7 linked regions of the Homo sapiens genome follow. The protein of the gene in region 2 purifies or fractionates together with the protein of the main gene of each other region. This does not show direct contact. Each region holds a gene or a part of one and is shown on either strand. Other genes may lie near its edges.

Evidence for each region.
Region 1: the proteins of KLRB1 (region 2) and CMTM8 purify together in Homo sapiens (affinity purification with mass spectrometry; one large-scale study listed by BioGRID and IntAct). This does not show direct contact.
Region 3: the proteins of KLRB1 (region 2) and MROH1 purify together in Homo sapiens (affinity purification with mass spectrometry; one large-scale study listed by BioGRID and IntAct). This does not show direct contact.
Region 4: the proteins of KLRB1 (region 2) and PANK4 purify together in Homo sapiens (affinity purification with mass spectrometry; one large-scale study listed by BioGRID and IntAct). This does not show direct contact.
Region 5: the proteins of KLRB1 (region 2) and HKDC1 purify together in Homo sapiens (affinity purification with mass spectrometry; one large-scale study listed by BioGRID and IntAct). This does not show direct contact.
Region 6: the proteins of KLRB1 (region 2) and SLC20A1 purify together in Homo sapiens (affinity purification with mass spectrometry; one large-scale study listed by BioGRID and IntAct). This does not show direct contact.
Region 7: the proteins of KLRB1 (region 2) and ABCC1 purify together in Homo sapiens (affinity purification with mass spectrometry; one large-scale study listed by BioGRID and IntAct). This does not show direct contact.

What each region holds. Positions count from the first base shown.
Region 1 is NC_000003.12:32,236,982-32,241,753, reverse strand, and holds the start of CMTM8 (CKLF-like MARVEL transmembrane domain-containing protein 8), read right to left. Parts: upstream 3,075-4,772; 5' UTR 2,782-3,074; coding exon 2,635-2,781; intron 1-2,634.
Region 2 is NC_000012.12:9,604,933-9,609,629, forward strand, and holds the start of KLRB1 (killer cell lectin-like receptor subfamily B member 1), read right to left. Parts: upstream 2,985-4,697; 5' UTR 2,908-2,984; coding exon 2,823-2,907; intron 1-2,822.
Region 3 is NC_000008.11:144,241,840-144,245,968, reverse strand, and holds part of MROH1 (maestro heat-like repeat-containing protein family member 1), read right to left. Parts: intron 3,601-4,129; coding exon 3,454-3,600; intron 3,368-3,453; coding exon 3,341-3,367; intron 2,476-3,340; coding exon 2,353-2,475; intron 2,107-2,352; coding exon 2,027-2,106; intron 1,748-2,026; coding exon 1,633-1,747; intron 1,526-1,632; coding exon 1,430-1,525; intron 814-1,429; coding exon 709-813; intron 1-708. UniProt on the Homo sapiens protein: Lysosome fission factor. Recruited to lysosomes by RAB7 (RAB7A or RAB7B) at scission sites and homooligomerizes to mediate the constriction and scission of lysosomal tubules. May sever membranes by inserting amphipathic helices into one bilayer leaflet.
Region 4 is NC_000001.11:2,519,765-2,523,893, forward strand, and holds part of PANK4 (4'-phosphopantetheine phosphatase), read right to left. Parts: intron 2,037-4,129; coding exon 1,954-2,036; intron 1,552-1,953; coding exon 1,337-1,551; intron 1,143-1,336; coding exon 959-1,142; intron 651-958; coding exon 558-650; intron 191-557; coding exon 37-190; intron 1-36. UniProt on the Homo sapiens protein: Phosphatase which shows a preference for 4'-phosphopantetheine and its oxidatively damaged forms (sulfonate or S-sulfonate), providing strong indirect evidence that the phosphatase activity pre-empts damage in the coenzyme A (CoA) pathway.
Region 5 is NC_000010.11:69,240,832-69,244,583, forward strand, and holds part of HKDC1 (hexokinase HKDC1), read left to right. Parts: intron 1-2,350; coding exon 2,351-2,534; intron 2,535-3,752. UniProt on the Homo sapiens protein: Catalyzes the phosphorylation of hexose to hexose 6-phosphate, although at very low level compared to other hexokinases. Has low glucose phosphorylating activity compared to other hexokinases. Involved in glucose homeostasis and hepatic lipid accumulation.
Region 6 is NC_000002.12:112,648,551-112,652,679, reverse strand, and holds part of SLC20A1 (sodium-dependent phosphate transporter 1), read right to left. Parts: intron 1-4,129. UniProt on the Homo sapiens protein: Sodium-phosphate symporter which preferentially transports the monovalent form of phosphate with a stoichiometry of two sodium ions per phosphate ion. May play a role in extracellular matrix and cartilage calcification as well as in vascular calcification.
Region 7 is NC_000016.10:16,120,397-16,124,525, reverse strand, and holds part of ABCC1 (multidrug resistance-associated protein 1), read right to left. Parts: intron 2,552-4,129; coding exon 2,352-2,551; intron 1-2,351.

The sequences.
Region 1 (4,772 bases), on a different chromosome or scaffold from region 2:
CTGCTGATCTAACCCAAATCACCTGAAGACTATACAGATGCCCCTTGACTTAACAATGAGGTTACATCCTGATAAACCCATCCTAAGTGGAAAGTATCCGAAGTCAAAAATGCATTTAATACCCCTAGCCTACCAAACATCATAGCTAAGCCTAGCCTATCTTAAACGTGCTCAGAACACTTAGGTTAGCCTACAGCTGGCAGAATCACCCAGCAGCACAGCATGCTGGAGAGGATGGGTGGTTTGCGCTGGTGATGGCATGGGTGGCTGAGAGCTGACCAGCATCATGAAAAAATATCTACCGAATATCATTAGCCTGGGAAAAGACCAAAATTCAAAATTCGAAGTATGATTTCTACTGAATGCATACTGCTTTTACAACATCTGTAAAGCTGAAAATTCCTAAGTTGAACCATCAGAAGTGTTTGGACCTATATTGGGAGACAGGAAGAGGGTATGTATAATTGGAGGCAGGGAAGAGGGCATCCCAGCTAAAGCCTCATCTTTCAGAGTAGAAAGGCAATGGATAATGTCTATGACTGGGTGGGTGAGGGAACACCAATAAACAGCATTATAAACACGTTGTTTAGAGCTCAAAGAGATGAAGACACTGGGAGAAACTTATATTTCTGCCTGTAGGACCGAATCTTTAAAATATGTGCATAAGGTGGGGCACAGTGGTTCATGCCTACAATCCCAGCACCTTAGGAGGCCAAGGCAGGAGGATTGCTTGAGCCTAGGAGTTTCAGAGCAGCCTGGGCAACACAGAGAGACCCCGTCCCTAGAAAAAAATTAAAAATTATCCAAGTGTGTTGGTGCATGCCTGTGGTCTCAGCTACTTGGGAGGCTGAGATGGGAAGATCGCTTGAGCCCAAGAGGTCAAGGCGGCAGTGAACCATGATGGTGCCACCGCACCTCAGCCTGGGAGACAGAGCAAAACCCTGTCTCAAAACAAAACAAAACAAACAAAAAAGGTGCATAATTAGCTCTGTCAAAAATAAAAACTATAGTAGTAATAAGGGTGATTTTGCTTACATGTTTTCCCATCTTTTTCAAAACGCTTAATGAAATCTAAAAGGATACATGCTAACATGTCAACAGTGATTATTTCTAGTAATGGGATTGTGGGCCACTTACATTTCTTTCACTTTTGTATTTCCTGAAAAAGCGCAGTACACAGAGCATATCGATAATAAATCAGAAAAAAACCCAAAGGCGTTATACTTCATGCCTGGCCCAAATCCACCCCAAGGTAGAAGGCCCATCTCTGTCATTTTAGCTTTTGTTTGCGCTGCTGAAGCAGAGGAGCCTGCCAACTCCTTCATTTGCACAGCAAATATTTGTTGAACTCCTAAAAGCTAGGCCCTGCAAGGCGATTCCAATACCTTCAGCTTTTGAGTCTCCTGAAGTCCTCAATACTCGCTGAGGGAACCAGCTGGGAGAGGAGCTAAGCCAACACTTCTCATACCTTATGTGCATTATGACCACCAGGGGCTTCATAGAGCAGGTCCGGGTGGTATCTGAGACTGGGGGAGCAAGCAAGCTACTTGAGGTACACAAGATTTACTTCAGGTTTCTCAAAGGAACCGCCCAGGTCTTCAGTCACTTCTGCACCATGATGGTGTGCCCATTCTCTAACTCCCACATAGGCTCATTTTCAATTCCCAAATATTTAACAAAAGTCTGTGAGAGATGACAGAGGGGCACTGCTGGGGCAGCTGGAAGCTGTCTCAACTGCTTGCAGTTATGAGCACGGCCCTGCAGAAAGGCAGGCCTGGGTTTGAATCCATGCTTCACCATCCACCGGTGTGATTTACGTCCCCTCTCTAGGCCTTCACAGGGGAGGGTGGTCGTTGGATTACACGAGGGTATGAGGACATCTAAAGGGCTTGACAAGATCCTGGTACACGAAGAAGACTCAAACAGTGACCACCTCTAACTGCTGACAGGACTCCAGTCCTTTCTCAGCTATGAAGGACTGGCTGGGACTTCTGGGAAGATCACGTGAGTTTTCAGCCTCTATGCCCTCCAATGAAGAGAAGAACGCCCATGCCCTGCCTCCTTCCCAGGAATGTTCTGAGCCTAAACCAGGATGTGCACAGCACCATGCAAAAGACCTCTTTGGTCCTAAAATAGGTTATGGCACTCAGATTTTATTCAGTAAAATTTTCCTGACTCACCTCAATGTTACTACCAGGGAGATAATTAGGAAAAGAAAGAAGCCCTTTCCTCTTCCCCTGATCTTAGGAAGCTTTATTTTCAGGGAGGAGGCCATCCACGTGGAGATCAGGTGAGAAAGGCACCAGGTGTCTCTGACACTCAACACAAACTCAATAGCCACTAAGCCAAGCTTCCTGCTCCCAGGATCTGCCGCCGCCACCGAGAGGACCCAACAAGCTGAATTTCTCCCACAGCAAGACATCCTGAGGATCACAACCCTTTCTTCCCAGGACAGCCCGAGTTTCCTGGACCTTGTTTAGAGTCTTTCACTTTGGGAAGAAGGCGAGGCTGAGCAAAAACGGTTCCCTAAAGCCCGCGGGAAGATCTGAGCAGGCTCCATCCCGAGAAGCACGGCGGAAGCACGCGCCGGGGTCCAGCTGAGCCCCCCGCCACCCCCGGCCCGTCGGCACTCACGATCTCGGCCACGATGAGGAAGCCGGGCAGGGTGCGGAGGAACTCCCGGTCGTAGGCGAAGCTGCTGCTGCTGGTGGAGAAGTTCTCTGCGAAGGAGCTGGCGGTGGTGGTGACTGTGTGCGAGCGGGCGCGCTGCGGCTCCTCCATCGTCGAGCCACTGCCGGGCTGGCGCGTCCCCAGGGACCCCGGCGGGTCTGGGGCTGGACGCGCGGCCCTGCGCCCTGGGGACACAGGCGCGGGGGAGGGGAGCGCGGCCCGCGCGGGGCAGGAGGTGCGAGGGGGGCGCCCGCCGGGGGCTGTCCAGGCGCGGCGGGTGTCCCTCTAGTGCGCGGTGCCCCTAGCGCCTCGGTGCGCGGGCTCCCGAGCTGCGCTGGGGCCCTAGAGGAAGAGGAGAGCGAGCGAGGGGAGGCTGCCGGGCAGCCGGGGAAGGCGGTGGAGGCCCGGAGGAGGGGAGGGGGCGGGGAGAGGGGCGGGCGGGAGGCGGGCAGGAGAGGGACCGCCCCGCGGAGGCGCCGCGGACGCCCGCCCTCTTCACCTGTTGCCCGACTCCCAGCGGCGGAGAAGGCGCCGCGTCGCACCCAGGGTGGCTGGGTTGGCAGCCTGGCGGGCGGCGCGGAGGAGAGGGCGCAGGGGTCCTTCTGGCCGTCTTCCGCTCCCCCTCCCGGCCTTTACTTCTGTCAGGCCCCGCCTGGCCCAGGCCCGCAGCCTGTTTCCTTCCACCTGGGCGGGTCGGGGGCTGCGGGCATTGGGGCCCCTTAAGGAAACCCAGGCCTCCAGGGACTCCGCCGCTCCAGGACTCGGCGCGGAGGGAATGACTGAGCGACGACCGAGGCAGGGGGTGATGTGGTACCTCGAATGCTGTGGAAATGGCAGGAATGATGACCCGGCCGGACCTTAGACCCGAGATCGATGAGAGGCCGCCAGCACTGCCCGGGAGACGGCCCGCTCTTCTCCCCCTCCTGCTGCGGCCGCCGCCAGAGCCCGGTGTTATTTCCTGCCCCTCCTGTCGGGAACAATTTGAGGAACCAACTTAATCGCTTGGCTTTGAGGGCGCGACGCTTCCAGGCGCTCTCCGCGGCTCTGTCCCGCGGACCGGTGGAGCCTGGGTGACGGCGCCTGGGCCGGAGGAGGGGAGATGTTTGGGGTCCCTGGCCAGGATGAATCAGCGTAACCGTCCCGTCACCCTCGGGGAAAAAAAATGTTTCAAGAAGGCTTGAAGGGTGTGATTTGTGTAATGTTAACTTTAGGACAAATGAGCTGTGCTTTCCTGGCATGGGAAGGGGATGGGGGTCCTCATTTAGTGAGGCAGTTTGTAACAGGGTCAGGGAAGAACTGAGCTCGGCTGCGTGCGTTTATCGGCTGTATGACCCAGAGCGAGTGGCTCTAGTTTTTGGACCTCAGTAATGCCATCTCTAAAATGCAGGCTTTGACAGATGGACCTCTGAACAAAAAGATTATCTTCCGCTTGGTCCCTCCTTCTATTTTGTGAAAGGGTAGCAAGAAACATTTTATCTGGAAGCCACCAAAAGAAAAGGAAATAATCTTTGGCTATAAATCGAGGGTATCTTTGATTCACAGTGAAGGCATTTCTGCTGATCTGTTCCAAGACAGGTTAAAAACGAGATCAGAAGGGACATTTTCTTCACAGTGTCTTATCAAGTGTGCTGAGAAGAAAGCAAAAACGACAATCTAATAAAATAAAACAAGGAATTAGTGTCTTTTAAGTCTAGGGCCTAGCCAGGAAGACCTCCAGGAGTAAAAGTTAAGGCTTCAAAAGCATGGCAAAGATGTAGATTTGGAGAGATTCCATCCATGTGCATTTGGTAAGCACCTTGGGCTGGTGGGTAAATTCTTAAAATTTAAAATATAGCACTTCTCCCTGGAGCAGTAGTTCTCAAAGTGGTCCTTGGACCAACAGCAGGTAAGTTCCCTGGGAACTTATCAAAAATGCAAGGTCTCAAGCCCCACCCCCAGACCCTCTGAATCAGAAACTCTGAGGGTGGAGCCAGGAAGCTGTGTTTGAACAAGCCCTCCAAAAGACACTGATGCATGCTGAAGTTAGCTGCTGCTTTAGAGAAACTGTTAATGAGTTTGGGGAAATAAGAGATACATACATGAAATGGCTGGAGGAGACTCAA
Region 2 (4,697 bases):
CACCCGTTAACTCGTCATTTACATTAGGTATTTCTCCTAGTGCTATCCCTTCTCCCTACCCCCACCCCACAACAGGCCCTGGTGTGTGATGTTCCCTGCCCTGTGTCCATGTGTTCTCATTGTTCAATTCCCACTATGAGTGAGAATATGCGGTGTTTGGCTTTCTGTCCTTGTGATAGTTTGCTCAGAATGATGGTTTCCAGCCTCATCCATGTCCCTACAAAGGACATGAAATCATCCTTTTTTATGGCTGCACAGTATTCCATGGTGTATATGTGCCACATTTTCTCAATCCAGTCTATCAATGATGGACATTTGGGTTGGTTCCAAGTCTTTGCTATTGTGAATGCTGCCGCAATAAACATACGTGTGCATGTGTCTTTATAGCAGCATGATTTATTATCCTTTGAGTATATACCCAGTAGTGGGATCACTGGGTCAAATGGTATTTCTAGCTCTAGATCCTTAAGGAATCGCCATACTGTCTTCCACAAGTGTGCCTCTATTTTACTATAAACTCTATGAAGGAAAATAATTTTCTCTATTTTGTTCACTGCTGTATTCACAGCATGCCTGGTGCAGAGTAGGAGCTTATTTTTTAATGAATGAATAAACTCTAGGGGCATTTTTGCAAACACCTTATCCACTTTTCTAACAGACCAAACCCTTGGCCATTTGGCCATAAGCAAGATCGGTTATCACTCACATCTCTCCTTCTGGTTTTGTTGACTGCCTTAGACACAATCACCGTGCTTGCTACAGAGTGACCACAGCCTCAGCAGTTTAGCCAGAGACCAATAGTGGTTTTACTGTCATTCAATATCAGACCAGTGTTCTATAGTCACATATTTTGCTCTGGCTTTATTCTACTCTTATTTTTTCTTCAGGTTTACTCTCAGAATGACATTTTATAGGATAATTATTACAATCCAAGTAGAAAAAATTTCTGCATCCATTGGTTTGGGATCATAGCAACATTTGGGAAGAGTCTCACTACCTCTATATTCATTTTCTGACAAAAGCCCACTTTCCACCTTTTGCTAGATATGAATAGAGGAAAAGAAAGACTTACTCTTTTCTTTAAAAAAAAATGTTACTCAACCAAATCCTCCCTATAGTTATTAGAACCCTCTGATTTCCTCTACTCTTATGTGAAAATTATACTGAAACTTAATTGACGGCTCTAAGACTTTCTTCTTGACTTAAAACTTTGAGAATTCAATAGTTTAAAACTTAAACAGTCTTAAAACAGCACAAGTCAAATGCTTGGCATGACATGGAATGAATATCAGATTGGTAAACAATTGTAATATTATCAATGATAGTAAATTCAGTTAGATATCAGAAAATAATAATGTGTCATAATAATTTCATGCTGATTTTCTGCCTCAGTTTCTAGTTTCTTCCCATCCATCCACAGGCCATGCTATCCATCATGTGTTACCTCACATTGGTGTTCCCCGCTTCTTTCACTCAGAATGCTAACTCTTCAGAGACACAGGAAAGTGCCAGTTTCAACAAATGGTAAGTAGGTTCGTTACTGATATGCTCGAGTATTTTTGTGGCTTGTCTCTTTCTAAGCTGTGATACTTTTCAAACTAGAAACTATCAGGTAGTAATGATATTCAAATCTTTGATCTTGAATATGATTTTTTTTCCAGAAAGTGTTCCCCTCTCTTGAGAGAGTGAAGTATGTTACTCATTAAGCCTACACTTTATATATATATATATAAAATATATAAAATATATGTATAAAAAGTATATATATATATATAAAATATATAAAATATATGTATAAAAAGTATATATATATATATATATATATATATTTTTTTTTTTTTTTTGAGATAGTCTTGCTGTGTCACCCAGGCTGGAGTACAGTGGCACAATTACAGCTCACTGCAGCCTTGATCTCTTGGGCTCAAGCAATCCTCTCACCTCAGCCTCCCGAGTAGCTAGGACCACAGGCACGTGCCCCACACTTGGCTATTTTTTTGTATTGTTTGTAGAGATGAGGTTTTGCCACATTGCCCAGGCTGGCCTTAAACTCCTGGACTCAAGCAAATCACCTTAGCCTACCAAAGTGTTGGGATTACAGGCATGAGCCACTGCAACTGGCCTACACGTTGTATTCTGAAAGGAATATTATGGATGAAAATGCACTGGGACTTAATCATAGTATTGATATTTTGTAGAGGAATTTGGAATAACGTAGGTTGTTATTACAGCAAGTTTGCAATGTGTCTTAAATATTCCTTAGTTCATACATGTAAAATATTTTTCCTTCCTTCCTTCCATCCTTCCTTCCTTCCTCCTTCTCTTTTTCTTTCTTTCCTTTCCTTTCTCTCTCTTTCTTTTTCTTTCTCTCCTTTCTTTCTTTCTTCTTTTCTTTCTCTTTCTTTCCTTTCTTTCTTTCTTTCTTCCTTTCTTTCTTTCTTTCTTTCTTTCTTTCTTTCTTTCTTTCTTTCTTTCTTTTCTTTCTTTCTTTCTTTCTTCCTTCTTTCCATCCCTGTAGAGCAGGGGTAACCAATAGGCAGTGTGCCCAGGGTAGCCTAAAGTGTTCAGAGTCTTTTAACCAAGGCTCAGTAAGACAAGTGATGTTTGCTTTTCATGCTAACTTGATTGAAAAAAATAAATGTATGAGGTTTAAATTTTTTTTCCCAAAGTTGTGATTATCTACAGGCAAGCCATGCAACACCCGTTAAACATTAATATAAAACTACTGCTCATCTTTAAAGCAATGATTTAAAGCCATAAATGTAACAGGAAGATCTAATTCTGGAAGACATACAAATGCCGAAAGGAAAATTAAAGCCACTTACCCCGAGGAAGAGATGAAGGTGAAGAACTTTCTGGGCCTGAGTCTGTGGGTAAGTTTAACTCAGCATATATTGCTTGTTGGTCCATGGCAGACAGAGGAAGGTGGCATTAAACTTGTGTGTAAGAACAAACTCTCAATTCTGTGAGGCAAAATCAGCAAAAGGAAGCTTTCTGCCTGCAGTACTTTGTTGTCTCTCTTTTGTCCCCACCCACATACACTTTTTGTTGGTGGTTATCTCCATAAATTACTGAGACAATCCACTGACTGCATGTTCATTATACCTAGCTATGTAATATCTACTTTCCTTAATTAACTGGCCTGTTGTTTGAGAAAATTCTGGGAGGCTCATTTGTTCTTGTTTTTCTAACCATCCCTTTTGTGTTCCTCTCTCAGGGCCAGGACCAGAGTGAAGCAAATGAGGCATAGCCTGGGGTTCCAATTTAAGGGGCCCCCAACAAAACTCACTAATTAACAGAAATAATATTTAGCACAATTTTGTAAAAGTAAAAATTAATGCAAAAAAGTCCATAATGCTATTCAAAGGCTCTAAAATCTTCCTGAAATATCTGTGCTCCAAAGAAAGTTGTGAAATGTGAAAAATGGAAACATAAATGTGAGAAAGCCCCCTGAATAACACAACAGAAAAAGCAATGTGCTAAAGATCAGTAGCCTACTGTTAGCTTAGCTCTAAAGGCACTCTTGGATATGATAGCATTTTCACATAAGTAAAAGTATTTGGAAACTGCCAGAATTGTAGGAAGTGGAGTATATGGAATTTTTTATCTCTTTGAAAGACTTTCTTTTTTTTTCAAGGTGATTATAGTATGTGTCTACTTTTTTTTTTTTACCTTTTTTTATTATTATTATACTTTAAGTTCACAATGTACAGGTTTGTTACATATGTATACATGTGCCATGTTGGTGTGCTGCACCCGTTAACTTGTCATTTACATTAGGTATATCTCCTAATGCTATCCCTCCCCCCTCCCCCCACCCCACGACAGGCCCCGGTGTGTGGTGTTCCCCTCCCTGTGTCCAAATATTCTCATTGTTCAATTCCAACCTATGAGTGAGAACATGCGGTGTTTGGTTTTCTGTCCTTGCAATAGTTTGCTCAGAATGATGGTTTCCAGCTTCATCCATGTCCCTACAAAGGACATGAACTCATCCTTTTTTATGGCTGCATACTATTCCATGGTGCATATGTGCCATATATTCTTAATCCAGTCTATCATTGATAGACATTTGGGATGGTTCACGAGTCTTTGCTATTGTGAATAGTGCCACAATAAACATATGTGTGCATGTGTCTTTATAGCAGCGTGATTTATAATCCTTTGGGTATATACCCAGTAATGAGATGGCTGGGTCAAATTCTAGTTCTAGTCCCTCGAGGAATCGCCACACTGTCTTCCACAATGGTTGAACTAGTTTAGAGTCCCACCAACAGTGTAAAAGTGTTCCTATTTCTCCACATCCTCTCCAGCACCTGTTTTTTCCTGACTTTTTAATGACTGTCATTCTAACTGGTGTGAGATGGTATCTCATTGTGGTTTAGATTTGCATTTCTCTGATGGCCAGTGATGATGAGCATTTTTTCATGTGTCTGTTGCCTGCATAAATGTTTTCTTTTGAGAAGTGTCTGTTCATATCCTTTGCCCATTTTTTGATGGGGTTGGTTGATTTTTTCTTGTAAATTTATGTAAGTTCTTTGTAGATTCTGGATATTAGCCGTTTGTCAGATGGGTAGATTGTAAAAATTTTCTCCCATTCTGTAGGTTGTCTGTTCACTCTGATGGTAGTTTCTTTTGCTGTGCAGAAGCTCTTTAATTTAGTTAGATCCCATTGGTCAATTTTGGCTTTTGTTGCCATTGTT
Region 3 (4,129 bases), on a different chromosome or scaffold from region 2:
TGCAGTGGCTCCCATCTGTAACCCCAGCATCTGTCATCCCAGCACTTTAGGAGGCCGAGACAGGAGGATCACTTGAGCCCAAGAGTTCAAGACCAGCCTGGGCAATGTAGCAAGACCCATCTCTACAAAAAATAAAAGAAAATCAGCTGGGTGTGGTGGCATGCACCTGTAGTCTCAGCTACTCGGGAGGCCAAGGCGGGAGGATCACTTGAGCCCAGGAGTTCCAGGCTGCAGTGAGCTGTGTTTGCACCATTGCACTCCAGCCTGGGCAACAGAGTGAGACCCTGTCTCAGGGAAAAAAAGAGAGAGAAAAGAAAGCCTAGAATAATCCTGACAGATGATAAAAAGATATTTAGCAAAATCTAATACCTGTTCCTGATAAAAGTTCTCATTAAAACAAATAGATGCTTCTGGAACATGATAAAAATATCGCCAACCAAATCAAGCACCGCGCTCAACAGTGAAGCCCTGGAGACCAGAGGTGCATGTTCCTTCCGGCTAACAGTGGACCCCTGATGACAACGGACTCTATTCTGAGCAGCCATCCCTGACAACTCCTGGCCCTGACAGGCCCTCAATCCAGGTCTCAAGGAAGAGGACTGTGGCCTGAGCTGGGGCGGCGGCCAGAGGAAGCCAGGAAGGCAGCTCACACTCTGGGTCATGAGTAACACAGGCAGCAGCACCCGGGCCAGGGACCCAGGTACTCACGCTGACACGCAGGTGCTCCAGGAAGTAGCGCAGCAGGAGGGCGCTCAGGCCCAGGGCCCGCGCCCGCTCGTGACCTCTTGGGGACTTGATCCATGGGCTCAGGTGCTGAGGAAGAGGGGCGTCACACAGGTACTGCTCAGAGGGCAGCCCTGGGGGCAGGAGCCTTGTGCATCGTGGGCCAGCTCAGTGTCCCTGCCAGGCCATCCTTCCTGGGCTACAGGGGGCCAAGCCGGGGACCCAGAGTGGTGCCAGCCTTAGGCCACCGTAGCTCCTCTGGCCCTGCCACTCTGTCCTCCAGTCTGGTCACAGACACAACCCAGCCCAGGTGGATCCAGGGCCAGCCAGGACTGTGGAGGGACAGGGTGGAGGCCACCTTGGTCCTAGAAGAACACACTCCGAGCATGGGGGTCGGCCCCACCCTAGCACCACCCTGGTAGCGGCCCCCAGTCAGGAGCCATGGGTACCCGTGGGCCCCTCCATCCCCGCGCCATGCAGTGGCGGGAGAGGACAGGCTCCAGAGGTCCCACCTGGGTCAGGGCCTCCCCAACTGCTTGCCAGCCCAGATGGGAGGGGGTGCACCTGCCTGTTCATAAACCACCCCCAAGTGCAGAGAGCACCAAACTGTCCCTGTGGTGCCCACATGTGGAGAGAGGGCCAGCAGCCAGGTGGAGTGCCCTCTGTGCCCCCATCCCCATCCCCATGACAGTTCCCCCCTGCACACCTCAATCATGATCTGCAGGCCTTGGGGGGTCATGTTCCGCTGCAGGAGGCTCGTCAGCAGATCCTCAAGGGCGTGCAGTGTCTCCAGATACAGGGACTGGAAGGAGAGCCAGGCCGTCCAGCCCCACCAGTGACCCCGCAGCCTACAGTGGCCTCCCACCACTCTCACGGATGTGGACACAGGCAAGGGAAACACAGGGATACCTTCTGGCAGCCTCCGTCCTCCTCCTTGGGCTCAGGCAGCAGGGCCATGATGCTGTGCAGGCAGCCATGGATCACATCCGCCCGGGCCTGCTCGTCCAGCGCTGGCTCCACGGAGCTGAGAGGCAAGTTAAGGGCCCCAGACAATGATCCTAAGGCTGAAACTCAGACACCCAGTAACCTCCAGGCCTGTGTGGGCAGCACAGCCACTGCCATGTTTACTCTGCTCCAGACCATGGCGGCACCCCATGCAGCATGCGCACACACAAGGCGTGCACACACGCAAGCACAGGCACACACACGCACATGCACACGCGCATACACGTGCACACACAATGCACACACATGCACGCACACACGCAGCTGCACGGGCCTGTGCAGAGGCAGGAAAGGATACACCAAGTAAGTGCAGGTGAGCATGGCTTTCTTCCGAATAGGTGTCCTCAAGGAGTCCGGGGGCTCTGCCCTGATGAACTCCTGGGTGAGGCAGGTGCATGACTCAGCCCTTGGAGGAAACGCCAGCTCTCCTCCCTGGTCAAGCTCTGTCCCCCAGCCTAAGTGACAGGCGGGGCCCGAGGAGCAGAGCCCCATGTGTCCCTACATGGCCCCTCCCATGTTCCCAGGCTGTCTTCACATTATCACCCTCAGTGCCCCAGTCCCCACCTCTGGCCTCAGTCTCCCAGGAACCTGCCTGAGGACCTGCCAGGCCACGGCCACGCTCACCATCATCTGTGCCACCAGCTCTGCTTTCCGGGTGAAGTGGAAGGAGCCAGCCTGGGTGCTGCTGCAGATGGCGCGGCTGACCATGCACACACTCTGGACAAGGCACAGCTTCAGGGCTGGGTCCTGCAGGGACGCAGGGCTACAGGAGACGCCCACGCCCGCCCTCCAGGGCTGAACCCGCGCATACCCCCTTTTCTTTCCTCTGAAACCAGAAGTGCTGCACTCTGCTCTCAAAGGAGCTCTCTAGCCAGCCCTTTTGCTTATCAAAGTCCATGTGGAAGAAGCGGGGGGCCACCCAGGGGTTCCCCCATGTCACACTCCAGAGAAGACAGGCCACAGAGCAGACACTGTGTGGTGTGACCAGAGGGCCCCCCACAGCAGGAGAAGAGTCCTCCGGGGAGTGCTGAAGGGCTGGGAGAAGAACCTCTCAGAACAGCCCCGCCCTCCCAGCCACCGCAGGAGAACCAGAGGGCCTATTCTTCAAGGAGGGGCTGACTGTCCTGAGAGAGGGGCTTGTCAGGTTAGTGCCAGGGAGGCCAGAAGGGAAACTTGTTAGTGAGGCTGGGGTGAGGCCTTGGGGGCCAGTGGAGCCTCCACTGCCACTTCCACTGGCTTTGGGCCTTGGCCCCTCTCCTAGGTGCTCACTGGGGTCCGGGGAGGTACAGCCCCCATGAGCACTGGGGAGCAGAGCCAGAGGAGGTTCCAGCTGTCCTGGGACGGGTGGGGCTGGCTGAACTCCCTGGGGGGCGACAGCCCACGACCCGGCCCCTCGGAGGCGCAGACGCCTCCCTTCTTCCCACTGCCGTCCAGGGCCCAGGCCAGGGAAGGAGCCCTGGTGATGCTCTCGAACGCCTCCTGGGGACGGAGACCAGGAAGCCCCAGCAAGCTCCAAGCTCCCCCTCCGGCCTCTGCCTATGAAGCTCAACCCGCCCAGAGGAGAGCCGAGAGGAGAGAAGCCAGTCCAGCACTTAATTCCTACACACTGTACCTTGGTTTCTACCTTTATTCCTAGAACCTGAACAACAAAAAGTGAAATGAGTTAAGACGTGACTCCCCGGCAGCCCCAGCTCCCCTGCGTGGCAGGCCCACCGCAGTGCCCACCTTGGTGCTGAAGTGCTGGCAGATGTTCCGGAGGATGTCTGACTCTACCTTGGCCAGCACCAGCTCCCGGGGGGCCCGGGCCGCCACGTGCCCATAGCACAGGATCAGAGCACTCTTCACCTTCTCCACTTCGTTCTCACTTCGATCCTGAGAGGCCAGAGGAACCAGCGGGACTTCAGTTACACAATTACACTCCCCGACGGGAATCCTCGGCTCAGAAACTCCTGAAATCCTCCCAGAAGAAGGGCCAGAGCCAGTCAGTGACAGCAGAGGTGTGACCCAGCCGTGCACGGCACCACCTGAATCTGGGGATGGGGAGAGCCTCTTTGCAAGGGGCAGGAGCACAGGCAGCCAGCCAGGCATGGGCCCACTGGGTACCGAGTAACAGAGGGCCAAGGGCCGAGGTAGCAGAGGGCCGAGGGTCAAGGCAGCACAGCCACGTGAGAGAGTCAGGCAGGAGGCAGCTGAGAAGAGCTCAAGGCCCCACCCTTGCTCGCTGCAGATCAGCCTCCATCCGCACAGCAAGGGCTGGGAAGCCCTGCATGCTTGGTCCAGCCCTGAGATGCTGTAACTGGGACAGTTACGGGAGACAGGAAATAGAGGGACCACAGCCGGGTTGGGGGCCTGCAGCAGGGGCCCACTCCTTCCTTAAACCAGGCTTAGGCTCCGCCAGCAC
Region 4 (4,129 bases), on a different chromosome or scaffold from region 2:
ATCCTGCTCTCTGGCGGCAGAGGCCGGGGTGAGCACCTTGGTCGGCGGTGGCCGACTTCCCGAAGCTGCTGGCGATGAGGTTCCCGCTCAGCCCGAGAGTCTGGTGGGCGCCGCCGTAGACGTCCCGCACCAGCATGTCCACATTGCTGTGCTGGCCCCTCGAGGCCAGGTGCAGGAGCTCGTCAAACTTCTGCAGGACACGGCGAGGGGGCGGGTGAGGCGCCAGGAGCTGCTGGAATCCCCACGACCCCAGAAACCAAGCCCATGGCAGGAGGCACGCGCGGGCAGGGGGTAAATGGGCCCTCATCGCGTGGGACCAAAGGCAGGAGGCGGCAAGCGGGACCCTCGGGCCACCCAGCCAGGATAGAAGCTCTGGGTTGCTGGGACACCCAACCCTCAGGGCGCAAAGAGTGAAGCCGCAGAGGCCAGAGACCCACTGACGCGAGTCAGGAGGGAGGCCCGGAAGCAGCTTTTGCACCGCCCAGCTGCAGGCCTTCGGGGGAAGGAAGCAGACATCTCCGCAGACCCCTGGAAGGTCTCTGGCAGCTGCCGCATACCTTCGTTTTGGTGAGCAGAGCGCCAAGCCCCCAGAAGGTGCCGCCTCCAATGGAGCTGCCGCCGACCCACTCGAACCTGTCCTCCGTCTCCACCTGCAACAGAGCCAGGGCAGGTGTGCCCTCAGTGGGCCCTCAGCCACACAGGCTCCCCCGCCCCCCGCCCCATGTGCTGCGCTGGGGTGAACCCCGCCCCCACCCCAACCGCCAGTGGGAGGACTCTCATGGCCAAGCCTGGGGGCGCTGATGCCCCTCCCACAGAGGCTCTGAGCTCACAGCCTCGCCACCCCCCTCCCGCCCACTGGGCCCCATCCATGTGCCCAGCCCTGGCTCCTGCACACAGCGAGGGCTTAACAAACTATGGCTAAACCATCCACTCATTCATTCATGAAGCCGGGTCTTACCTTCACGATGGAGACTCCAGAGCCGATATTGACAAGAAGATAGGGGAAAATGTGGGGGTGGTTGGTCTGGAACCGGAACTCAGGGTCGGAATCCTTCTGGTACACGAAGGCCTCATGGGGGATGTTCTTGAGCACGAAGTTGCACCCCTTAATCAGGCACGTCATCACGTCCTCCTTGTCGACTCTGAAAAGGAAGCGCCAACCCCTTAAAGAGTCTGGGCCACAGACAGGTGCAACCATGCAAGCCTGCCTGGTCCGAAGGGGCAGCCATGCCCCATGCGCAATCTGACACACGAGCGCCAGGGACGCGGCTCTGGGACACCCAGGGACTCGGGGGCAGACACATGTTCCTTTCTCGCCCTTGAGATCCCCACTCACTTCAGCCGCAGCTTCTCTTCGATGAGGTCTTTGAACTTGTAGGCCCCGCCCCCGGTCGCCTGGATGACCTTGGTCTCTGTGTTGACGAGATGGTCTTTGATGAAGTCCAGGCAGGCTTCGATGTAGGTATTCTCAAACTTAATGAAGTGCAGTCGAGCAGTGATCTCTTCTTGAACTGAAATCTCATAGGGCGGCTCATGTTCACGTTCTGTGTCCTGGAAAACAGAGTAGGGGAGGCCGCATGTGTGTGGGACACCGCGCCGGGCTGGGCTGTGCGCACCCTGCCCTAGTGGAGCTGGCTGTTCGCGCCAGCCTTCAACCAGGCGGCGCTCTGAGGCAGAATCCTGGGCAAGAGGGAGGAGCCTAGGACCGTGGCGACCTCAGGGCCACCCAGCAGGAGCGGAAGCCTCTCCCGGGGGAGCACAGGCGGGCGCAGGTTCCTACAAAGGGTCTTGAAGGGACACGGCGGAAGGCAGGGGAGGCTGTCCCTGCTAGAAACTCCCAGGACACTAAAGTCGAGGTCTGCAGCAGCAGAGGGATGACTGCGAGACAAGTGCCAGGTCCAAGACGACAGAGAAGCGGCTGCCCTGCCCCGGGTGGCCACAGTGCAGGCTCACCTTTCCGGAGTGGTCGAAAGACCGCACCTTGGCGACTTTGTGCTGTACCGTTGAATAGTAGGCCAGCTTGGTTAACGACCCGCCTGCAGGGGAGACACAAACCGGGCAGGATTCAGGACCAGGACACAGCGGGGCCTGGGGGTCCATGCCCCACACTCTCTGGGTGTCCTGGAGACTAAAGTCTCTGTAGATGAGGGGTTTGGGGCTACTGGAACTTAAAAACCCTGTGGGCACAAAAGAGAGGACAGGAAAACGAACAATCAAATCTACACTTTTCTTTCTCAAATTCTGCTCCTCCTCAGCTCCCTGGCCAAACTGAGCTCAAGAGGTCCCGCTTCCCCTTGGCACCAAGTCCTGCAGAGGAAAGGGAGAGCTGTCTTGCTTTGGGTAACCTTGGTTATCCTCACTGCTTTAAGAAAATTCAGTTTCAAGTGATCTTGCTAATGACCCAAAGCGATAAGCTGACAAATCCAGGCTGTTTTCGTTTTAAGAAGTACACCCTCGACCGTCCCTGCTTACAAAGGAGGCTCTCCTCACAGCCCAGGGCGGTAACGGGGCCTGAGCAGCTCCCCTACCCTGGAGAGGCAAACGGTGCCGCTGGCTACTCTTGAGAGGCTCCAGGCAGAAAATGCAGCCCCAGCCCCAAAAGTAGCCAGAAGTCAGAGGCCACCAAAGTCCGTTTCCCCACAGGCCAAAGTCTCTCTGATGCTCTCGAGAAGCCCTGTGGCTTCCAGGATGCCGCCTGTGATCAAAGGTTGAATAAATATCAGGAAATGGAAGGGGCTCTATGTACCTGAACCAGATTTCAGGGAAAAGTGAAAAGATTCTTGAAGAAGGCCTTTTCAAGGACAAATTCTTCTAAGTTAAAAAAAAAAACAGACATTGTTGAGGCTAGAGTTGTATTCATAGATTTGAAACAACATGAATGACAAATAGAAAAAGAAACAAAATGTGACTTTGAGTGCATTGCGCGGTGCTACAGTGACTTAACAGAGGGCACTGTGTGTGTTATAGTGACTTAACGGAGGGCACCGTGTGTGTTATAGTAACTTAACGGAGGGGACCGTATGGTGCTATAGTGACTTAACGGAGGGCACTGGATGGTGCTATAGTGACTTAACGGAGGGGACCGTGTGGTGCTATAGTGACTTAACGGAGAGCACTGTGTGTGCTATAGTGACTTAACAGAGGGCACCGTATGGTGCTATAGTGACTTAACAGAGGGGACCGTGTGGTGTTATAGTGACTTAACGGAGGGCACTGGATGGTGCTATAGTGACTTAACACAGTGCATTTCTTACAGGGCCTGACAAAAAGAGGCAAAAATCCCACATCATGAGAGTAATGAGGCTAAAGTTATTTTCAAATTATTGTTTTTTGACAAAATACTATAAGGATGTCTGAGAACAAGCACTCAGGTCAGTAAAAAGATTTGGAAACACCAAGCAAACAGCCAATGCTGTTCATGTAGCAAAACCCACCGTGTCCAGGCCCCACAACAGCCATCCCAGGGCACCTCCTGCCTGGTGGTGAGGGCAGGCTCCCCGACGGCTGGCGTACAGTCTGGTGGACGCGTCACAGGCTCAATCTGATCCCCTAGCCTGTGGCTTTAAGCCTCCTTATCCCCTCCCCTGCCCCCAGTGCTGGCCGGGCCCGGAGAGTCTCACTAACATGCACCATGCCGCCGACTCACCTCAGTAAATAAATCGTTTTCTAAAACGACAGATGATGCAAGAGGATGAAGATCTATTTTAAGAGACTCATCAAAAGTCAGTATAAACAAACTCTCAGGTCACAGAAATCCAGTTTCAGGCCCTGGGTTCTTTGTGTTAAATACATGCCCAAACAGGATGTACTGGGGTTGGGACAGAGGTGGGGGTGGGTTGGTTTCTGCAAGATACGCATCCTCCCTCCCTGAGACCCCTGCACGGAGAGGCCCAGCAAGGCCAGTGTTCCGTCTGCCTACTCCCCACACCCGGGGGGACAAAACGGGACCTGAGGCGCGAGGGGCACGCACAGCAGGGAGATCTGTTAGAGCAGAGGGAACCGCCTGCGGGCGGGGACCCTTCCGGGCTGAGCTCAGGGACCCCTCGGAATCACAGCAAACCGCGCCTGGCAAGGCAGTGACAGGAGTGCCTCCTGGCGGCTCTCCGGGCTGCCCGCGCTCGGCCCTGAG
Region 5 (3,752 bases), on a different chromosome or scaffold from region 2:
TTCGGCGGGAAGGGCACTGCACTATTTAGGAGAAGCAACATAGGGACATGAAAAATTCATTCATTCATCCATTCGACAAGTGTTTACTGAGCACCCATTGTGTGCCGGCCCCTGGGCTTGGCACTGGGTTTGGAGTGGGGAGTTCCTGTGCTCCTGGAACTTTCAGTGGGGAGGTGGGTGAGAGGCCCAGAAGGCCTAGGCTATTAAGATAATTTCAGGTGGTGGTTAGCGTGATAAAAAAACAAAAAACAAAAAACAAAGAGAGTGATGTGACTGTGAGTGGGATGAGGCGTCAGGGAAGCCTCTCTGAGGGGTGGCATTTGAGCCGGGACCTCAGTGATGCAAACCAGGGAGCAAGGTGGAGGCCCGAGGGTAGGGAGTCCCTGCCAAAGGAAAGAGGACACCTACAGGCTTGGAGATGGGAAGGGGTCCAGGGAGGGGGCACTGGGGGAACCCTATAGCCGAGTGGTGTCCGGATGAGGTGAGTGAAGGCTGAGAGTCGGAGGCCATTCAAGTGAGAGGCAGAGGACAGACTGGGCAGATTGCACAGGATGTGCACACAGTCACTGTAAGGTCACCGGCTTATCCCCTGAGGGAGACTGGAAGGCACTGGGGGACTCTGGGTGGGGGATGGATAAATGGATGCGCATTTTATTTTATTTTTTTATTTGAGACGGAGTCTTGCTCTGTCGTCCAGGCTGGAGTGCAGTGGCACAGTCTTGGCTTACTGCAACCTCTGCCTCCCAGGCTCAAGCAATTCTCCTGCCTCAGCCTCCTGAGTAGCTGGGATTACAGGTGCCCACCACCACGGCTGGCCAATTTTTTGTATTTTTAGTACAGATGGGGTTTCACAGTGTTTGCCAGGCTGCTCTCAAGCTCCTGACCTCAAGTGATTCACCCGCCTTGGTCTCCCAAAGTGCTGGGATTACAGCCATGAGCCACCACGCCCGGCCGGATGTGCATTTTTTAAAAGCCCATTTTGGCTGCTGTGTGGATAATAGATTACTGGGGACAAGAGTGGAAGCAGGGTGACCATCCAAGAGACCACTGGACTGTCAGGCAAGGTGCACTGCAGCTGTGGACCAGAGAGGTCGTGGTGCAGTGGGGGTTTCCAGTGGGTGGTCTCCACACCAGAGCGAGGGGGTCAGCTGGAGGAATGTGTGGGAAGGCAGTTTGGGGTACAGTAAAGCTGAATGGCTCTGACTTATAGGTTGTTCTTGAATATCCCCTTCTCCTTTTCCCATTCCTTTACCACTCCTGGGGAAAGTTCTTCTGAATTGCTTTTTCTTAATGTCCCTCAAGACCCTCCTCAGCCTGGCTTTCCCAAAGGGCAGGTTTTTAAACCTGAGGGGCTCCCTCCACCCTTCTGTTTCCAGGAGCCTCAGAATGGTTCAGGCCCTTGCCAGTCATGGCACCCGCCTGTCACTGTGGCTGCGTCTGGTAACCACAGATTGGGGGGGCCACGCCTAAACAGTGTCCGTGCATTTCTGAGAAAAGCTTTTTCCAAATATTACATTCTGCTTTTCTACATTTCTCATTTTCCATGTTGGCATTTAAAATACTCATACCAGAGTATCAGCCAAGGGAAGATACTGAAGAAAAAAAAAAAAAAAAAAAAACCCGAAAATTCAAACAGCTTTATTGAGGCATAAAAGTCCTCCGATTTTAGGTATACGATTCAATGATTTGTAGTAAACGTATAGTTTTGTAACCATCACCACAATCCGATTTTAGAACATTTCTGTCCTCCCAAAAGAGTCCAAAAAGATGGTGCCCACTTGCAGTCATTCCCCAGTGCTCAAGTGTTTGAGGCATTTCCTTGGAGCGATTTTGTGTTTGCATAACGGAATGTTGCTTTCTTAGGTGGTAGCTAATCACAGTCTAAGATAAGGATGCAGCTTATGCTAGAAACAATTTGTGGCAGGCCATAAGTAAAGAATATTTTTAGTATCAAATAGAGAGGAAGCTAAGTAGCTTAAGGAAAGAATTTTCAAAATTACCCTGGGTTGGTGATTTTTTGAAAAAAATATTTACAAGATTATCTTCATTTGTCCTCTTGTAAGAGCGCTTCGTCAGCTTTCATCCATATTCATCAGCGGACTTCTTCACAATTGACTCCATTCAGAACAGCAAACCCTGAGCACCCTGAGAAGTGCAGACTTGACATGTCAGCTGTTTTCCCCATGTGCTTGGGGCTTGCCCAAGCTGCTTCCCTCAGCGAGAGCCAGCCCCCAGGGAATGAAAAGCACTTTGTGGTACATTGAGGAGGACTCCCCAGCAGTCAAGAGTTCTCTGTCTGTGCCCAGCTGGGAGTCCTCTCTCTGCATATTCTCTCTGATCCCTGGTTCAGGAACTGGCACCAATGCGTGTTACATGGAGGACATGAGCAACATTGACCTGGTGGAGGGCGACGAGGGCAGGATGTGCATCAACACAGAGTGGGGGGCCTTCGGGGACGACGGGGCCCTGGAGGACATTCGCACTGAGTTCGACAGGGAGCTGGACCTCGGCTCTCTCAACCCAGGAAAGCAACTGTGAGTTCCCTTCTGGTGTTATCTGGGCATCGGCACCAGGCAGTGCCTAATCACTCAGGTCCCCTGGCTACCTGGGAGGCTTTCCAGTTGTGACTAGCTATCCATCACAACTTTCTTTCTTTTTTTCTTTTTCCTTTTTTTTTTTTTTTGAGATGGAGTCTCACTCTCTAGCCCAGGCTGAAGTGCGGTGGCACGATCTTGGCTCGCTGCAACCTCCACCTTCCAGGCTCAAGCAATCCTCCCACCTCAGTCTCCAGAGGAGTTGGGACTACGGGCATGGGCCACCATTCCTGGCTAATTTTTGTATTTTTTGTAGAGTCAGGGTTTTGCCATGTTGGCTAGGCTGGTTTTGCACTCCTGAGCTCAGGCAATCCTCCCGCCTCAGCCTCCCAAAGTGCTGGGATTACAGGCATGAGCCACCATGCATGGCCCCATTACAACAAATTTATAAGGCATTGCTTGTATTTCAGTTTCATCTGACAAATGAGGAAATAGAAGCCAAGGACATTGAAAGATTTCCCTAAGTCATAACCCTAATAACCCTAATTCTAATTCAGTCAGTATTTGTGGGTTACGTATGTGCATGATAGGCACTGAAGATAAGAGCACTCGGACGCTTGGCCGCAGAACACACCTGGGCAGTGAGGAGAAGGCAGGCACAGCCGAACTCGTCGTGTTCGCATGTCCCCCAGCCGCCTTGCTTTCTCGGAGGCCTAATCACTCAGCAAGTGGTGACTCTGGCAGGACCTTCCCTCTGTGTTTGCTGTCCACAATTTTTATTTTGATGCTCAAATTGTTTCAGATTTGGCCAAAGGAAGCCTCTGAAGCTGCCTCCTGTGTCCTTTTGACATGTTCCATCACTCTTTAAGTACTTCCTTATTTCCTGGCACCGTAAGACGTTCCCGGCTCATGTCGCACTTTCCTAGCCCCAGCCCTGGAATCAGCCATTTTGTCAAGACATGCTGGTGAATTTCAAGCACCTTCTAGGAGCGATTCAAACACTAGAACTGTGCACCCGGGAAGCACATTCCACTTTGGTGGCACCTACTCCAGGCACATGCCTGTGCTCTAGTGACCCATTGCAGTCATGTCCCAAGGACGTGGTGTCCATTTTTTGAATTTTATCATCTTCACCCATTTCCATTTTACTTAAAATAAATTCTATTCCTTCCAGGCCTGGTGGCTCATGCGTGTAATCCCAGCACTTTGGGAGGCTGA
Region 6 (4,129 bases), on a different chromosome or scaffold from region 2:
ATATCTTAAAAGGTATAAAGGTTAACCCATTTCCACAGAATCTTTTAACAGGGTAGGTTTGGGAATTATAGTGCCAATAACTCTCTCCAGAGTAGTTTCCAAGGACAACAGAGTTTTTCCTGCATTTGCATCTGGAATTCTTCCTACGAAGGCTAATTCCAACTTCTACCTGTTTTTTTTTCTTTTTTCTTTTAATAACAAGACTAACTGTACCAGTGACTGATAACATCCTGAATAAAGATTGCAATACCCACATTCTAAGGTACCCAAAAGCCCTAATATAAACTTCAGCACACACCTGAGGATAGGCTATACTCTACGTTTGTAAGAGATGTCAAGAAATAGACTATGTTAGGATGTTGCTTACCTGACTTCATATCTTCAAAGACTAAAAATACAACATGCAGACTATGCGTACGCCAACCATCTTATCTAAACATCTGACAAAGATGCCACAATTAATGCTTTACCGAAGTTCAATGATAATAACTGATTGTGCACAAGGTCATCCACTCACTCAAAAGACTGTGTGCCAAGTGCTATTCTGGGCACCGAAATATAGGAGGGAATAAGACCAAGTTCCTGTTCTAATAGAACTGACACTCACCTTCTAGTATGGAATAATGTAAAGTACTGACAAATGCTGTGAAGAGAAATAAAGAAGGGTAAGAGGAGAGTGATGGAAGGGGGGGCACCATTTGGGTGGGGAGGGTCAAGGAATAAGCATGACATAAATGTAGTAAGCTAGCAAGCTGTGTACATTAACTATGGGTACAGAAGGGGCAAACCACCTGATTATTTGGGCGCTGAATGTTCCAGACAGAGATATCAGCAAATGCAAAGGCCCTAAGGCAAAAACTTGAAATGTTTAAGGAACAGTAAGGCCAGTGACTAAAAATAAGAATTCTACCATACCTAGTATGTATTAATTCTATAGGAGAACACCCAAGTCAAACACCGAAAGAATGGGAGGAGGCTGGGCGCGGTGGCTCACACCTGTAATCCCAGCACTTTGGGAGGCCGAGGCAGGACAATCATGAGGTCAGGAGATCGAGACCATCCTGGGTAATACGGTGAAACCCTGTCTCTACTAAAAATACCAAAAAAATTAGCCCGGATGTGGTGGCAAGCATCTGTAGTCCCAGCTACTCTGGAGGCTGACTCAGGAGAATCACTTGAACCTGGGAGACAGAGGTTGCAGTCAGTGGAGACTGGGCCACCTCACTCCAGCCTGGGCAACAGAGTAAGACTCCATCTCAGAAAAAAAAAAAAATTGGGAGCAAAGATCTGAATACATATATGGGAAGGCTAAAAACTTTATAAAGACCTTAGCCTAAAAGGTTTAATGTTATCTTGATCACAATTCCAGTGGAAAATCTTGGGGAGGAAAAACAGAAAGTAAAACCCTACAGCTTCCAACAATAATCAATACACTGGAAAGTTAGTAGCTTAAGACCAGTGAAACAAGGGAAAGCTCAGACCCATGTGTAAAGTAAAGGTACCATTTCAAATTAGCAGAGATGAGCACTCATTGAAAACCACTCTAAAATTTAACTCTTATCTATAGTTTAATAGAGAATGTTAACAGATAGTGAAATAGCCAAAACAAAAACAATAGCATACAGAAATCAAGAACTGTTAAGCATCCTTGAATAACTAACTCAACGGTGGTCAAACTCTGAGGGCAGTCAACAAGATTAGGAAACTAAGGTGTGTATTTTTATTCTAAAGACTAGTCTTAAGAAAATGCAGGTCAGGTGTGGTGGTGGCTCATGTCTGTCTGTAATCCTAGCACTTTGGGAGGATGAGGCAGGGGATGGCTTGAGCCCAGAAGTTCAAGACCAACTTAAGCAACAGAGCAAGACTCCACCTCTATAAAATATAAAAAGTTAGCCAGATGTGGTGGCACACACCCATAGTCCCAGCTACTCTGGAGGCTGAGGCAGGAGGATCACTTGAGCCTGGGAGGTCAAGGCTGCAGTGAGCTACAATTAAGTCACCGTACTCCAGCCTGGGTGACAGGCGAGACTTCGCTTAAGAAAAAAAAAAAGCCAGGTGCAGTGGCTCAAGCCTGTAATCCCAGCACTTTGGGAGGCCAAGACGGACAGAGCACCTGAGGTCAGGAGTTCAAGACCAGCTTGACCAACGTGGTGAAACCCCGTCTCTACCAAAAATACAAAAATACTAGCCGGGTGTGGTGGCGCCTGTAATCCCAGCTACTCAGGAGGCTGAGGCAGGAGAATTGCTTGAGCCCGAGAGGCGGAGGTTGCAGTAAGCCCAGATCGTGCCACTGCATTCCAGCCTGGGCAACAGAGTGAGACTCCGTCTCAAAAAAAAAAAAAAAAGGCTCCAAAAAACCCAACCCAAGACTCCCACCCCCAAAAATTTCCTGGGTTTTAAAGACATTATGTGGGGACTTCTCAATAGATTTTCAAAGATATTTCGTAATATGATTATCCATAAATCAAATTGTAATTGACTAGTCTGAAGTAGCAGCCTGTGTATTTATTATCCTGTATAGCATAGCCCAATTAAGTATTCCCTGAGGTAAACAAATCTGAGGTATTCTCTACGCAAAGTTGTTGGGGATGGGGTAGGGTATGAATGACACTACTATACCAATAGTTTATTGTGAAATACAGGTTCATGGTTAAAAAAAAATCAAAAGTTCCAGAGAGTCTAGGAAGAAGGTAAAACAAGAAAGGTCTCATCATTGTAGAGATCCACCTAACACACAAGTAAAACTTCACCTGGAAATAATGTGAATGCCTCATCGTCTAGTCATGTGGGACAGGAAAGGTCTTCACAAAACCCCCCATCTTCACCAGAATAGTTCACTTTTACATATTGGATATTCTGGTTTTGTCTAAAGAAAAGGGAAGACATCCTAAATATATTTCTAACTAATGAGAATGCCAAAAGCCCTATTTTCTTTGACTAGAATTTAAAAATACTCAACAGGAGCACTGAAGCATATTCCTTCTGTGCGATGCCAGTCCTAAATAGAAGTACCTCACCTCCATTCTGTCTGTTCCCACCTATCCCCAACATGCTTGGAACAAACATTCAGAGAATAGAAAATGTTTAAAAGCAATTTTTTGAAATTAAAAAAAAAGGTCATGTTAATCTTAATTTTCAAGATAGACATTTAAGAGTTGGAATATATCTTAATGGTCAAATATTCAGATTTTAGCAGTTAAGATACCAAAAGCTTACCAGTCTAAGGATATTTTCTTGAAATTTAACTCCTAAAAGGAAGCAGAAATATTCATACTCAACTGAAAACTCCTGTTACTGAGGGATTGGCCTGCAAGAGTGTGTGTGTGCACGTGCACAGAGTGGGGGAAGATCCTCAAAGTCAATATTGTTTTAAACACTATGCCAATCATTCTTCATCATTTGATCATGCCCATTCCCATACCCATATAGGAAATATACAATTAAGAAATCAGTTACCGTATCTAACTTCAGCCCTCAATAACACCGTGGGGGTATGCATTCCTCAAATGAGAGGTTCTGGGCACCTGAGAATCCCTCTTTGCACCTCAGAGCACCACCATTCCCCTTCCGGGGAATAAGTGTTTTGTGGAGGTGAAACACACAAACCCTCTCCAAAAACAAAATGATCTGCTACTCAATAATCAACACAGGGCCAGCATAAACCTTTACCAAGCAGGAATTCACAACAGGAGATCCTACTAATGCTTCTGACTCTCTGCTAAGTAGCAAGATATACAGTTCTAATGAAAACTCTAAAAAAAACAAAAAAATCTGGTCCATGACTACTGGTGAGCCTCTAATTTAAGCATCCCAGTATCATACACTACAGTTGTAGGGAGTGGGAAGGTAGATGCTTATCGTACCTGTCTGCTGAATAAAACAGTACCAAACTTAGGAGTCCATAAATATCAATGAACTGTTTACTCTCATATTATACCAGGCTAAAGATATTTCAAGTTTTCAAAGTGTTAAACTGCTATATTCTGCCAGATTCTGGCTATGGAAAACAGTGATTAGTGAATCACTTTACTAGTCATAGAATTTCTACAGAGAAGAGACAAATCTTTCCCTAGAGAAGCTTACAACTAGACCAGACAAGTGGGTCTGAATACATTCTTACCTGCTGGGA
Region 7 (4,129 bases), on a different chromosome or scaffold from region 2:
CTGGAATCTGAAGCTTGCCTTTTTAAGAACCAACTTTTTTCTCATTGAAGCCTTTAAAATACATACACATAGGCCGGGCGTAGTGGGTCACTCCTATAATCACACACACACACATACACACACACACACACACACACACACACACACAGCCGGGCGTAGTGGGTCACTCCTATAATCACACACACACACACACACACACACACACACACAGTGCATTAACAACAACAAAAAGATGTCCTGGAAATTCCTAAATACTAAGAAGACATCAACTGTAAGAGACACTAGGGATTTAAAATAACCATCGTTTCTCGGCCTTTTGGCTAAAAACAAGTAGAAAATAACAGTCTCTTGTTACGAGACAGATCTGGGAGGGGAGTGCGTAACTAGTACGAGTAAACATCATTGTAACGTTCCCAAGCCCAGACTCTTCATTTCAAAGTGTTAAAATATACTATTTTACCCTTTAAAATAGAAACAGAAATCATGTTTTCTGTCATTTTGTTTTTTTGAGATGGGGTCTTACTCTGCCATCCAGGCTGGAGTGTGGATGACATGATCACAGCTCACTGCCGCCTCAACCTTCCAAGTTCCAGTGATCCTCCTGCCTCAGCCTGAGTAGCTGCGACTACAGGCCCATGCCACCACACCTGGCAAATTTTTGGTTTTTTGTTTTGTTTTTAGAGACAGGGTCTCCCTAGAGTGCCCAGGCTGGTCTCGAACTGCTGGGCTCAAGTGACCCGCCTGCCTTGGCCACCCAAAGTGCTGAGATTACAGGTGTCAACCAATGTGCCTGGTCATCTTATTTGTTTAAAGCTAGGTTTAGTATGGTATCATGTACCATCAGAACTATTTTATTTTACTTTTTATTTTATTCTTCTCTTCTCTTCTATTATTTCTTCAGATAGAGTTTCGCTCTCGTTGCCCAGGCTGGAGTGCAATGGTGCGGTCTTGGCTCACTGCAACCTCTGCCTCTTGGGTTCAAGTGATTCTCCTGCCTCAGCCTCCCAAGTACAGGCACCCACCATCATGCCCGGCTAATTTTTTTGTATTTTTAATATAGATGGGATTTTGCCATGTTGACCAGGCTGGTCTTGAACTCCTGACCTCAGGTGATCCACCCACTTTGGCATCCCAAAGTGCTGGGATTACAGATGTGAGCCACCGCGCCTGGCCATCTTATTTGTTTAAAGCTAGGCTTCGTATGATATCATATAGCACTAGAACTATTATTTTAATGTTCTAAAATATAAAGCATTCTAGGAAGATGGGGTGTTGATCTTTTCTCCATTGCAGCCCTTATGAACCAAGTGACTGATCCTCACTACTCCGACAGACACAGCCAGATTGTGACAAACTCCCTAAAAATTCTGAAGGGAAGTCAAGGTCTGTAATCATTCAGGGTTAGCCCACCCAGACTTACGCTATGGGATTAGAGTGTGTAAGACGGGCTAATGGTTATGGGACACCTCTGGGGTGCTGTCACTTTTTCAGAAAAGTCTATAAGGATGCAAATGGGTGAGAGGGACACTTCTCTAAATTCAGCAAATAATTAGCAAACTTCTGCCTCTTTTGGATTGATGCTATTATCTGTGATCCACAAGATGTCAATCTCCCACCCCCATCTCCTTTTTTTGTTTTTCCAGAGACAGGGTCTCACTCTGTCACCCAGGCTGGAGTGCAGTGGTGTAATCATAGCTCAATGCAACTTTGAACTCCTGGGCTGAAACGATCCTCCAGCCTCAGCCTCTCGAGAAGCTAGGACTACAGGCACACACCACCATGATGGGCTACTTTTTTTTTTTTTTTTTTTTTTTAAGAGAGATGGGGGTCTTGCTATGTTGCCCAGGCTGGCCTGGAATCTAATGGATCCTCCTGCCTCAGCCTCCCAAAGTACTGGGATTACAGGCGTGAGCCATGACATCTGGCCCACAAGATGACAATCTCATATGGTTTAGCTTAGTATTAGTAAATTGCTTCTGACACACATCACCCAGGGGTGCATGATCACCCCCAGACGGGAACAGCGGTATGAAGATACTCAATAGCAGAGTCGGTCGCTGGCAGTCTTGCATCACTAGGATGACAGTTAACGGGAAGCACTTGCAGGGCTTTCTGACTCCAGAAGAGCTGTGTCCCTGCACTTAAATGCCGCGGGCACTGCATGTCTACAGTGCCGCTGTCTGCTCTTAATGATTCATCTGTCCTCCGCGCTCATCAAGCCTCTCCATCCTTTCTGCAAGGCCGGGGTTTGGCTTTATACCCAGCTCAAGGTGCGAGGAAAAGATCGAGGCAAAGAGACAAGGTGCTAAGGCGGCCTCCTCCACCCGCTCCTGCAGGCCCACCATGCCCACCTGTTGGCCACGATGCTGGGGTAATAGGCCTTCTGGTTCTCGTCCACCTTCAGGTCACTCTGGTGGATGAAGCGCTCCTGCTCCTCGAAGGCTCGAATGACGCTGACCCCCAGCAAGGTCTCGTTGAAATGGGAATAGACCGGGGAGCGGCTGACCGACTCGAGGCGCTTCAGCTGCCGGGAGGAAGCCACGTAGAACCTCTGGGGTAGAGAACAGACGCGGGGAGTTGATGAAGGTTCCCTCCTGCCATCCTCCCAGGGCAGGGCTGTGCTGGAGAACATCTAGACGTAACCGATACCTCCAGGAGGCAAAATGTTAGAGCCGGGCTGCCCTCACAGGGGTGCCCACTCACCTGGTGAACCACAGGAATAGCACCACCAATGACAAGGACAGTGACAATAATAGCTCACGCTTATACAAAGCCCACAGCCCCAGGCATCGTTCTAAGCAGTTTTACAAACATCAGTTCATTCAATCCTCACAAAAAACCTGAGGTGCTCATTCCTATATGTGATGGGTAGACTAAGGCACAAAGAAGCTAGTTAATCTCCTCCCCAAGGTCACATGGCTAGCAAGGGGCAGAACTGGGATTCAAACCCAGGCCATCTGGGCTGCAAAGTGCTAACCTCTACCCTGTACTGCCTCTCTGAAGCCTTTCACCTCTAGGGTTTTCTGGAACCAGCAGTGTGGTTTTCAGCATAGGCTTTGAGGTCAACGAGACCTCAGTTCAAATCCTGACTCAACTACTGACTGGCAATATAAACACGACTAACACTTTACTTCTCTAAGCCTCAGTTTCCTTATCTGTAAAATGGGAACAACAAGGCTTGCTCGGCCAGGTGGGGTGGCTCATGCTTGTAATACCCGCACTTCAGGAGGCAGAGGCGGGAGATCACTTGAGGCCAGGAGTCTGAGACCAGCCCAGGCACATGGCAAAATGCCATCTCTACAAAAATAAAATATTATTAAGAAAACAAACGAAACAAAACAAAGCTTGCTTCACGGGGTCATTGTGAGGGTGACATGTAAGAGTTACAGTCTTACATGTGATGTGTATTTGCGTGGACACATTATTTCATAAATCATATAGATATGCATGATGTCACTAAGCACAGTGCCTGGTAATACTAGGTTGAACCACAGGAAATAGCTGTTTCTGTAGATAAGAAATAAGTATTAGCAGTTTCATATAGTTTGACCTAACAGTAAGCATTCAGTTAGCTGGTGACTATTGTTATCATTAAGTGACAGAATTCCGCCTGTTGATCACATCCCCTCAGGAGTGACTGTGTCCATGCAATGGCCGGTTCCAGCACACTCAGCCCAGCTGAGATGCCCATGAGGATAGGGTCAATCTCGTCACCCCCCTCCGATGGCCTCCCAGCGCTGTTAGAGTTGCCAACCATGCTTCTTCCCTCAACTCATCTCATCCTGTAACTCTCCCCTTCCTTCCCTGCACACAGGCCGCCTGCCTCCACCCACCATGCCCATCCCGTCCAGGCCATTCCTCATCACCCAGCAGATGGGAGCACAGATGTCACTTCCTCGGGAAGCCCTTCCCATCCTCCATGAGCACCTTCTCCGGGCTTCAGTGTCCCAGCTCCCGGGCTACGATGATACGTTTCACAAGCAGCTCCACCCACCCTCGCGGGCAGATGCTTCATCTGCTCTGCCTCCCCCAACCTGGGCATTCAGCCAGTGCCAGGCACCAAGAGCCTCCCGATAAGTCTTGTTAGATTCAGAACAAAAGCCAACCACCTTCTGCAAGCTTTGTGGAG